Linked DNA regions of Homo sapiens. The protein of the gene in region 1 purifies or fractionates together with the protein of each later gene. This does not show direct contact. Each region holds a gene or a part of one and is shown on either strand. Other genes may lie near its edges.

What was found.
Region 2: the proteins of ACIN1 (region 1) and LUC7L2 purify together in Homo sapiens (affinity purification with mass spectrometry; 5 studies listed by BioGRID and IntAct, with this or other methods). This does not show direct contact.
Region 3: the proteins of ACIN1 (region 1) and PRPF6 purify together in Homo sapiens (co-immunoprecipitation; 2 studies listed by BioGRID and IntAct, with this or other methods). This does not show direct contact.

What each region holds. Positions count from the first base shown.
Region 1 is NC_000014.9:23,060,496-23,064,243, forward strand, and holds part of ACIN1 (apoptotic chromatin condensation inducer in the nucleus), read right to left. Parts: coding exon 3,610-3,748; intron 3,083-3,609; coding exon 2,941-3,082; intron 2,580-2,940; coding exon 2,434-2,579; intron 2,029-2,433; coding exon 1,921-2,028; intron 1,781-1,920; coding exon 1,673-1,780; intron 1,128-1,672; coding exon 803-1,127; intron 690-802; coding exon 589-689; intron 1-588.
Region 2 is NC_000007.14:139,357,560-139,361,307, reverse strand, and holds the start of LUC7L2 (putative RNA-binding protein Luc7-like 2), read right to left. Parts: upstream 1,415-3,748; 5' UTR 1,047-1,414; coding exon 986-1,046; intron 1-985. UniProt on the Homo sapiens protein: May bind to RNA via its Arg/Ser-rich domain.
Region 3 is NC_000020.11:63,984,120-63,987,867, forward strand, and holds part of PRPF6 (pre-mRNA-processing factor 6), read left to right. Parts: intron 1-787; coding exon 788-906; intron 907-3,748. UniProt on the Homo sapiens protein: Involved in pre-mRNA splicing as component of the U4/U6-U5 tri-snRNP complex, one of the building blocks of the spliceosome.

The DNA.
Region 1 (3,748 bases):
TACAATCAAGTTCTTTTTTTTTTTTTAATTGTCTGAGACAGAGTTTTGTTCTTGTTGCCCAGGCTGGAGTGCAATGGCACGGTCTCTGCTCACTGCAACCTCCGCCTCCCGGGTTCAAGCAATTCTCCTCCTCAGCCTCCCAAGTAGCTGGGATTACGGGCGCTTGCCACTGCACCCGGCTAATTTTTGTTATTTTTAGTAGAGACAGGGTTTCCATGTTGGCCAGACTGGTCTGCAACTCCTGACCTGAGGTGATCCACCCGACTCGGCCTCCCAAAGTGCTGGCATTAGAGGCGTGAGCCACCACGCACGGCCTAAAATCAAGTTCTAAGAAGCCTGGTCGGCACAGCCAGCTTCCCAGACATCCACAAACTTCAGCTGCTATCTGCGTGTCTATCTTTACCCTCCTGAGTCTGGTTTCTCTATGTTATACCAATTAACTGAAAACTGCCTTTTTGTGATGCTTAGTTTATCCTAAACCTAGGAAGTACTTGGGCCGACTCACTCTCGCAGTCACATGAATCTCCCCTCACCCTGACCTCAAGCCTCAGTGCCACTAGGGAGCAGGGCACGAAGAAGAGCACTCACCTGGCTGTCAGTCAGTGGGAGCCAATAGATGCAGGGAGCTGCCTTGGTCTTTCGGAAAAGGTCATCCAGCAGCTTGGCAGGTGGTTCCTCCTGGGCTTTCTCTGAGGTGGAAAAAAGTGAACCAGATATGATGCATCTGACCCTCTGTCCCATCCCATCTGGGTCCCTTTCCCACCTACTAGTGGGTATGCGTACCCCATAGCTAAGTACCTACCTTTCTTCTCACTCTTCTTTTCTTTAGACTTCGCACGTTCCTTGCGGCGGCGGTCACGGGACCTTGATCGGGAACGGGGCCCTTCTCGAACTTTGTCCCGATCCCATTCACGCTCTGATCGAGTCCGCTCCCGCCGCTCCATTTCCCGTTCCCGTTCTGCCCACTGTTCCCGCACTGCCCGTTCCTGCTCCCGCTGCTCTGCCCGGGGGTGCTGTGGTGGCTGGACCGGGGGTGGGGGTGGGGGGTGCAGGGGCCGTGGTATTCCCTGCTCCTCTGTCTTAGTTTCAGAGGGACGGTCCACCAAGAGGCCTCGGTGATAATCCAGCTGTGGGGAGAGGAGGGACAAGGACAGTTAGGATAGAGGTGATATCACTCCCACTCAAGGAGCCAGGATGGCCGGGCGCGGTGGCTCACGCCTGTAATCCCAGCACTTTGGGAGGCCAAGGCGGTCAGATCACGAGGTCAGGAGACCGAGACCATCCTGGCTGACACGGTGAAACCCCGTCTCTACTGAAAATACAAAAAAATTAGCCGGGCGTGGTGGCGGGCGCCTGTAGTCCCAGCTATTCGGGAGGCTGAGGCAGGAGAATGGCGTGAACCCGGAAGGCGGAGCTTGCAGTGAGCTGAGATCGCGCCACTGCACTCCAGCCTGGGAGACAGCGAGACTCTGTCTCAAAAAAAAAAAAAAAAAAAAAAGGAGCCCAGGTACCACTTTGAAGCCCCATGGTACAATTAAAGGAACCAAAGCCAGGGAAGAAGAGAAAAGAACAGAAGCTCAGAGACTGCAGGTCTGGCAAGGATCTCAGCTGAAATCTAGCAGATAATGGCTTCCCCTGCCCCTCCTCTCTTTCCTCTCCCTAGGTTTCTTACCTCATCTTGCTCGGCATAGTCAGCACAAAGGAATTTGGGATTGGACTGGGGCCATTTGACCCCGTGCAGAGCTGTGCGGGTGGCAACAGCTTCCTCTACTGTTGAGTACTGGTGGAGGAAGGGAGAAGATGGAGGGTCACAGTGTGTCTGCAACCCTTCCCACGTGCTGCAACACCCTTAAACCTGCCCACACTGGTCACAAAAGGAAATATATGCCATGACCTATAGAATCAGCTTCTTCCCCTCACCGTTACAAAGCAATGAGATTTGATCTTGTCAATCCAGAAGGCCTCTTCCACCAAGGTTCCTGTGCGCCCCAACAACTCCTTTAGCTGGCCTAAAGTGAAAGGACGGACCTGCCAATGAAAATAGACTTTCAGGGTCTAGCAGAAGGCAAGACCACCACCCAATCTTTAGATTTCCCGAGCTGCTGTCACAGGAGTATAGTTTCAAGGTTTGGGGGAGGGCAGAGAGTTTAGGAACCTTGCAGTAAGAATGTGAGAAGAGTGGTGGTGCTTCCCAGCACTAATTGAGACGTTGTATGTGAGGCCTTCTGCAAGTCCTCAAAACAACCCTGCAGGGCAACAGCTTTTCCCCCTCATTTTTAGATGGGTAAATATGTTAAGTAACTCACTCAAGATCAGTGAGTAACTTAATCTATTGGTAGACCAGTTCAACTATGAGTGGAACCTAGGAGGCATAAGCCTAAAGCTCAAACTTAACCACTAAGCAAGCTGGGATGGTGAGAAACAATGACTTACCAAATTGGAGATATGGACAATGTTGCTAATCTTGCCCCGGGGTGGGGAGGGCACCTGGGCAGTTCGGACTGGGTCATCAATGGTAATGGAAACTCCGGACTTCTGCTGGCTAATGGAACGTCGAGTTAAGGTATCTCCTAAAGTCACTATCAAGAAGACCACAAGAACAGCTTTTGGTAGGAAGCAATACTGGCTCTTTTCACCCTCAATGTAACTCTCACGGTTCCCTTTCTTTTATACCAAGCAGCCACTCCTTAATCTAAACGTGCAGAGCACCTATAATCTGCAAAGTACTGTGCTAGGCTAACCTCCTCATCATGGAGATTCAAAGATTAAACAGAGTCAAATCTGGCCCTCAAGTAGCTTACTTAATATGTAGGAGAAAGATATGATATACGAAAAAATATAATGAAAGGCAGGAAACATTCAAAGCTTTCAGCGATCCAAATGAGGTGCTCTGAGAATTCAGGGAGCCGCATTACATTTCTCTCACAATATGTCACTCACCTTTCTTTACTTCATGCTCTGCAGGTGGGGGCAAGGCCACCTCTACTGACACCTGGGGAGGTACAGGAGGTTCTGCTTCAGGTTCCTTCTCTTCTTCCTCTTCTTCCCTCTGCCCATTCTCCTGGCCCTCTGCAGGTACTACCTATCAAGGTGTCAGAGAACACAGCAGGTCTGTTAAACACCAAACTGGCATATTCTTTTCAGCCTCTGGTTCCCCGGTAAGAGTAGCAGTCAATCTAGCATGTTCCTTCCGCTAGGGGTATTTCGTTATCGGCTCACTTCTACCAGATCCTGGGATTGTTAGTGCCTCAACTTTGCCTTGAGGAAAACTAAGACAGGAGTTAGTAAATTTTTTCTGTAGAGCAAAGCAGTACTTCAGGTTTTGCAGGCCACATAGTTTGTTGCAACTACTCAACTCTGGTGATGTTGTAGTGAACAAACAGCCACAGACAAAAGTGAATGAACTCGTGTGGTTGTGTTCCAATCAAACTTTATTTGTAACAGGTAGCCAGCTGGATTTGGTAGTCTGACCCCTGAAAGTGTCAGTCAACCCAACCCTCTGCACAGACAGGGAAGTTCCCTCCAAAGACTTTATCTCAGCTCCTCAGCTAGCTGCTCTGCATCTACTGCTCCCACCTTTCCCCTGACACTGGGGTGCAGAAGCCTTACCTGAGTGACTGTCCGGCATATTTTCAGCCCCTTGTCATGGGTCCCATCATCGCCATTACGCTCTGTCTCATCCTCAGAGATGCGAGAGTCATCAGCATGAAGATCCACAACAGCCTCCTGCCCCGCCAGGGGTTTGATG
Region 2 (3,748 bases), on another chromosome or scaffold:
GCCTAAAGAAGCAACACATAAAAACTACCAAGGATTTTGCTGTGTTAAGAAAGTAATGAACTAGACCTTTCCTACATATTTGAATGTATTTAAGTTGAATTTGAGAGTACATTACTAATTAACATCACCAAAAAAGCAACAGCATTTCATCATTTTATTTAGAAATTCTCTTTATGACAAAGGATAATCCAGCAATTAAGGGCTCTCTATACAGATTCTAAACTAAACGCCTGAAAGGATCTTTGTTCTCCTCTATTCTACTTCACTGGGTACCAAATTTTCAAAATCGTTCTGTTAGGGACATGCAACATTTGTCAATATTTACTGAACAAAGCCTCTATTAAATTGTCTAACAAAATGGAGGTCTCTCGGAAAAACAGGCCATAACATGTTCCTTCTCACAAAATGGGGCCAAACACACCCACTTAAGAAACCATGGTTTGGGTCAGATTTTCCATAAAAATGGTTGTTTCTGTGGGGCTCGAGGGTGCATCTCTGAGACTGGGTTAGTAATAAAGGTTTCCTCCTGACCCAGGAAGAGGAGGGGGAAGCTTCTCTCTAGGTACTCTGGAGGACGGCGGCGAGGGATGATCCCAAAGCTCTGGGTTAAGGAATTATATCGGGGGTGGAGGCCTTAGCTTTCCGCAGGTACCTAACCAGCGACAAAACGGGCCCCCCAACTACGCAACAGAGACGCGGGCTCTCCCGTCTCAGCCAAGTCAACATTAAAAGCACAAACTCTCCTTTCTGCCTCCAGGCCCCGCCTCACCCCATTGGCAGCAGTTCCCGCCAATCCGCATGGTCACCGCCCCCCCTGCCCGCCTGCCGAGCCCTGATTGGATGGGACGGGGGACGGGGACCTCGTGTTACCAATCTGGGAGCCCCTTACTCAGCCACACGCGCGCGCCCAGGTGCGCCCTCGGAACCCCTTCCCTTCGCCGTCCCCGTCCCCTCCCCCACCCCCAGGGCCCTGGCAGAGACTTACCGTCCCGGGAGGTGCCCATCAACTGGTCCAGCATCGCGCGCATCTGGGCCTGCGCCGACATGGCGGCGGCGTAGCGGGCGGACGGGCGGGGGTGGGGCGCAGACCGGGCCCTTTTGGGCTGGGGGATAAGGGGAAGGGATGGGGGAAGGTGCGCTGCTGTCTCGGTGGCCGCCGCCGCCTCGAGGCGTGCGGAAAGGGAGCCGGAGGGGTTGCGGGAAGAGTCCGGACTGCGCTCCTCACGACGACGTGTACGTGGAAGACGACAGCCCCCGACAGCGACCCTCGTGCCCTCACTCTCCGTCCGGTTCTTGGGACAGAAGCGACACGGGCCAAGCAAGCTCTCGCCTTCAACACCGCCACCCGCCAGAAGCCGTCAACCCCCCCTCAAGCTCTGACGCCGCTCGCCGCCACCGTCGCCACGACGGGAGCGCGCACGCTCCTCGCGCTCAGTCGTTTCCCGCGGGGGCTCCACCAACTGGCGTCCAGCTGTATCACTCCGCCCGCCCCGCCCGAGTGGAGTTCCACCCTAACGGCTCTGGGCGCGTGCACGCGCGCTCCTCCCGCCCCTTTACCCCGGATCTCGCGATACTCTGGTTCCTTAACTGACTGTGCAAGCCGGATCCGCCCCGAGGCGCCAAACCTTACATTACATTCCCTCCCGGCTGTAGGGCTGGCGGCTAAGGCTGCGCTGCCCGCGGTGATGGCGATTCAGACCCAAATTAGCAAAATGCGCTAGAGGTTAGCCTGGGCGGAAAGTAAGTAGAGACCATGCCCATCGTCGACCGGACTGCGGTCAGCCTCCTTGGCGTCTGAGGTGGGCGTGCTCGGGGCGAACGCCCGCCCCGAGTGGCGTGGACGCGTCCTGGTTCTCGTGCGCCTTTCCCGGCCGGGAGCAGGCCTGTCTCGCCGCCGCCGGGGCCGCGTTCCTTCCGCTGCGTGGGGCTTTAAGGCTCCTCGGCTGGGAAGTGTCAACTTCAGGAGAAAGCGCCCGAAAGCAGTACCCTAGGAAACAGGCGCGCCGACCCATTCGGATTCATCTTTACCTACAAGGTCGCGGGCGGCTTAGTCTGAATGTGAAACCATAAAAACTCAGCGTATTCTCAGCTACTGGGGAGGCGATCTCGGGGAGCAGGGAGCCAGCGGCGCTGGCCGCAGGGAAGCCTGGATTCTGAAGCCCGGCCCGTGACTGGGGCCTTGGCTTCAGTTCTACCCCTCGTAGGGCTGGTGGAGGTGGTCACACGTCTGCTATGGCGTGGCTGTTAGAACAAACTGGAATAAAATACTTAGCCCTGAGCCTTTCCCTGGTGTTTCTAAAAACTGTTTTAGTAAAATATTAATTCCTTGCCGGGCGCGGTGGCTCACGCCTGTAAACCCCGCACTTTGGGAGGCCAAGGGAGGTGGATTGCCTGAGGTCAGGAGTTCAAGATCAGCCTGGCCAACATGGTGAAACCCTGTCTCTACTAAAAATATAAAAATTAGCCGGGCGTGATGGCGGGCGCCTCCCCAGCTACTCGGGAGGCTGAGGCAGGAGAATCGTTTGAACCCGGGAGACGGAGGTTGCAGTGAGTCGAGATGACGCCACTGCGCTGCAACCTGCGCGACAGAGCGAGACTTCTAAAAAAAAAAATTCCTTAAGTAAGACATAGGTCAGTGTGCAGGAAGAAAGGTTGCTTAAAAAGAAATCTAAAACTGTAAGAAAAATGAATGAGTTAATAAAACCAAATGTTTAAGAAGACAGGCACTTTCTAGATACTTTGAAAGGACATAATAGAGATTTGTGTTCCATTAACACTGTATATTCATCGCCTAAAAAGAAATTTAAAACTGTAAGAAGAATGAGTTAATAAAATCAAATGTTTAAGAAGACAGGCACTTCCTGGATACTTTGAAAGGAAATAATAGAGATTTGTGTTCCATTAACACTGTATACTCATCGCCTTGGAACTGTTATTAGCAGATCAATAAAAAACATGAATAGTAGTAATAGTCCCAAAATTCCTTTAAATGTATATTGCGGCTGGGAGGGATGGCTCATGCCTGTAATCCCAGTACTTTGGGAGGCAGAGGCGGGCGGATCACCTTGAGGTCAGGAGTTCGAGACCAGCCTGACCAACATGGTGAAATTCCATCTCTACTAAAAATACAAAAATTAGCCGGGCATGGATGCGCGTGCCTGTAATCCCAGCTACTCGGAGGCTGAGGCAGGAGAATCACTTGAACCCGGGAAGTGGAGGTTGCAGTAAGCCGAGATTATGCCACTGCACTCCAGGCTGGGTACAAAGCAAGACTCTATCTCAAAAATAAATGCGTATTGGGCCAATGAAAATTTTTGAGGTCGGACGCAGTGGCTCACACCTGGAATCCCAGCACTTTGGGAGGCCGAGGCGGGCGAATCACGAGGTCGGGAGTTTGAGACCAGCCTGCCAACATGGTGAAACCCTGTCTCTACTAAAAATAGAAAAAATGAGCTGGGCGTGGTGGCGCATGCCTGTAGTCCCAGCTACACCGGAGGCTGAGGCAGGAGAACCGCTTGAACCCAAGAGGCGGAGGTTGCAGTGAGCCGAGATCGCGCCATTGCACTCCAGCCCTGGTGAGTGTGAGACTCCATCTCAAAAAAAAAAAAAAAATTATTTTGAATCAAGTTATCTTTAGTAATACACAAAATAGCTTCTCTTCAGTTATTCAGAGAACTCTGAATTCCAAACTCCAAATACTAGGATATCCTTTGGGAACTGATTTATAATAATAGAAAAATGTGCAAAT
Region 3 (3,748 bases), on another chromosome or scaffold:
AAAATAATTTTAGTTTTGAGGCCAGGTGCGGTAGCTCACACCTATAATCCTGGCACTTTTGGAGGCCGAGGTGGGCGGATCATGAGGCCAGGATATCGAGACCATCCTGTTTAACATGGTGAAACCCCGTCTCTACTAAAACTACACAAAAATTAGCCGGGCATGGTGGCATGTGCCTGTAGTCCCAGCTACTCGGGAGGCTGAGGCAGAAGAATGCTGTGAACCCGGGAGGCGGAGGTTGCGGTGAGCCAAGATTGCGCCACTGCACTCCAGCCTTGGCGAGAGTGCGAGACTCTGTCTCAGAAAAAAAAAAAAAATTAGTTTTGAAATAATTTTAAATTTGCAGGAATTTGCAAAAATAGTGCCCCCCCAAAAAAAAGTTTCTGCATGTCTTTCACCAAGCTTCTCCCGATGTTACATGACCTTAGTGCAGTTATTGAAACGAAGGAGTTAACATTGACACAGTACTATTAACTAATTTGTCAGTCGTATTTGCATTTCATGTTTTTCCATGAATGTCCGCTTTCTGGCTTAGGCTTAGTCCAGGATCCCCCATTGCATTTCGTCATGTCTCCTTGGTCCCTTCCAATTGGGGGTCTCCTCTGTCTTCCATGCCCTTGACGCTTGAAGAGTAGTCACCAGTTATATGGTAGACTGTCCCTTGATTTGGCTTCGTTGGCTGAAGAAAATAATTTAGCAAGTATTTCACAAGTAGAGATCTCCGTTTCGCTGGTGGGGATGGTGTTGAAGGAAAAGCTGACCTCTACACGTGTTGTTTGCTTCTCAGTTTAATGGCTATGCTGGGAGCCTCTTCTCAAGTGGACCCTACGAGAAAGATGATGAGGAAGCAGATGCTATCTATGCAGCCCTGGATAAAAGGATGGATGAAAGAAGAAAAGAAAGACGGTAAAAGAAATTGTTGCCTTTCACAATATTTATCCAAGTTTAAAAAAAAGTTTTGTGGCCAGGCGCAGTGGCTCACGTGTGTAATCCTAGCACTTTGAGAGGCTGAGGTAGGACGATAGCTAGAGCCCAGGGGTTTGAGACCAGTGTGGGCAACGTAGGGAGACTTAATCTCTACAAATAATTTAAAAATTAGCCAGATGGTACACACCTGTAGTCCCAGCTACTTGGGTGGCTGAGGTGGAAGGACCGTTTAAGCCCAGGAGGTAGAAACTGCAGTGAGCCATGATCATTCCAGCCTGGTTGGCATAGTGAGACCCTGTCTCAAAAAAAAAAAAAAGTTTTGTTTTGAATTGTTTTATATTTGGAGAAAAGTTGCAATAGAGTATGTGTGTCTGCTTAGCTTTTAGGCCACCTGAGGGTCTTGGTCTGTCGTAGCCATGCCTGGATAAGCACTGGGCTGTTACAGAACAGCCTTAGGGCCTGGGGGCTGCAGTGGAGAGCTTAAGAACTCTTAAGTTTTTCCAGAAATCAGCAGAATTTTGTGGATTACTTTTACGATACATCAGGGTTACCATCTTTGAAATGAAAAGGGCCTACTGACTTGATTATTATATGTTGAGTAATTTGCAAATGAATTAAAGATGTTAAATGACACATACAAGCTACCAAGATTGAACCATGAAGAAATCCCAAACCTGAACAGACCAATAAAAGGTAATGAGATCAAAGCTGTAACAGAAAGTGTCCTAGCAGAGAACATCTCAGGATCTGATTGCTTCATTGCTGAATTTTACCAAATATTTGAAGAAGAACTAATACCAATTCTACTCAGACTATTCTGAAAAATAGAGGAGGGAATACTTCCAAACTTATTCTACAGAACCAGTATTACCCTGATACCAAAACCAGACAAAGACACACTGAAAAAAGAAAATGTTAGGTCAGTATCCCTGATGAACACTGATGCAGAAATCAGCAGAATACTAGCAAACCATATTCAACAACACATTAGAAAGATGGTTCATCGGCTGGGCGCAGTGGATCACGCCTGTAATTCTAGCACTTTGGGAGGCCGAGGTGGGCGGATGATGGGTCATCTGAGGTCAGGAGTTCAAGACCAGTCTGGCCAACCTAGTGAAACCCAGTCTCTACTAAAAATACAAAAATTAGCCGGGCATGGTGGGTGGTGTACGCCTATAATCCCAGCTACTTGGGAGGCTGAGGCAAGAGAATCGCTTGAACTCGGGAGGTGGAGGTTGCAGTGAGCCGAGGTCACAACACTGCACTCTAGCCTGGGAGACAAGAGCAAGACTCCATCTCAAAAAAAAAAAAAAAAAAAGATCGTTCATCATGACCAAGTGGCATTTTGCCCAGGGGATACAAGTGCAAGGGTGGTTCAACATATGCAAATTAATCAGTGTTATACATCATATCAACAGAATGAAGGACAAAAACCATATGATCTTTTTTTTTTTTTTTTTGAGACGGAGTCTCGCTCTGTTGCCCAGGCTGGAGTGCAGTGGCGCAATCTCAGCTCACTGCAACCTCCACCTCCTGGGTTCAAGTGATTCTCCTGCCTCAGCCTCCTGAGTAGCTGGGACTACAGTTGCCCGCCACCACGCCTGGCTAATTTTTTGTATTTTTAGTAGAGACGGGATTTCACTGTGTTAGCCAGGATGGTCTTGATCTCCTGACCTCATGATCCACCTGCCTCGGCCTCCCAAAGTGCTGGGATTACAGGCGTGAGCCACTGCGCCCGGCCTAATCATTTTAATTGATTCTGAAAATGCATTTGATAAGATTCAACATTCCTTGATGATAAAAACTCTCAAAAAACTGCATATAGAAGAAACATACCTCAGGCTGGGTGTGGTGGCTCACGTCTGTAATCCCAGCACTTTGGGAGGCTGAGGCGGGAGGACTGCTTGATCTCAGGAGTTTGAGACCAGCCTAGGCAAGAGGGTAATACCTTTTCTTTACAAAAAAATACAAAAATTAGCCAGGCTTCGTGGCACACACCTGTAGTCCTAGCTACTCAGGAGGCTGAGATGGGAGAATTACTTGAGCCCAGGAGGCAGAGGTTGCAGTGAGCTGAGATCATACCACCACACTTCAGCCTGGGCCACAGAGCGAGACCCTGTCTCAAAAAAAAAAAAAAAAAAAAGGGGGGGGGAGCATAACACAATAAAAGCTATATACAGCTGGATGGGGTGGTTCACGCCTGTAATCACAGCCCTTTGGGAGGCCCAGGCAGGCAGATCATTTGAGGTCAGGAGTTTGAGACCATCCTGACCAACATGGTAAAACCCTGTCTCTACTAAAAATCCAAAGATTAGTTGGGTGTGGTGGCTCAGGCCTATAATTTCAGCTACTCAGGAGGTGGAGGTTACAGTGAGCTGAGATTGTGCCACTGCACTCCAGCCTGGGCAACACAATGAGACTGTGTCGCAAAGAAAAAAAAAAGCCACATATGGTAGGCCCACAGCTCGTATCATACTGAATGGGGAAAAACTGGAACGCAACAAGGATGCCCACTTTCACCACTGTGATTCAACATTGTACTGGAAGTCCTAGCTAGAGCAGTCGGACCAGAGAAATAAATAAAAGGGCATCCAGATTGGAAAAGAAGAAGTTAAATTATCCTTGTTTGCAGATGATATGATCTTATATTTAGAAAACCCTAAAGACTCTACCAAAACACTATTGGAACTGACAAATTGATTAAAGTTGCAGGCTATGCCCCCAGGTGTGGTGGCTCACACCTGTAATCCCAGCACTTTGGGAGGCTGAGGGTGGGTGGATCACCTGAGGTCAGGAGTTTGAGACCAGCCTGGCCAACAAA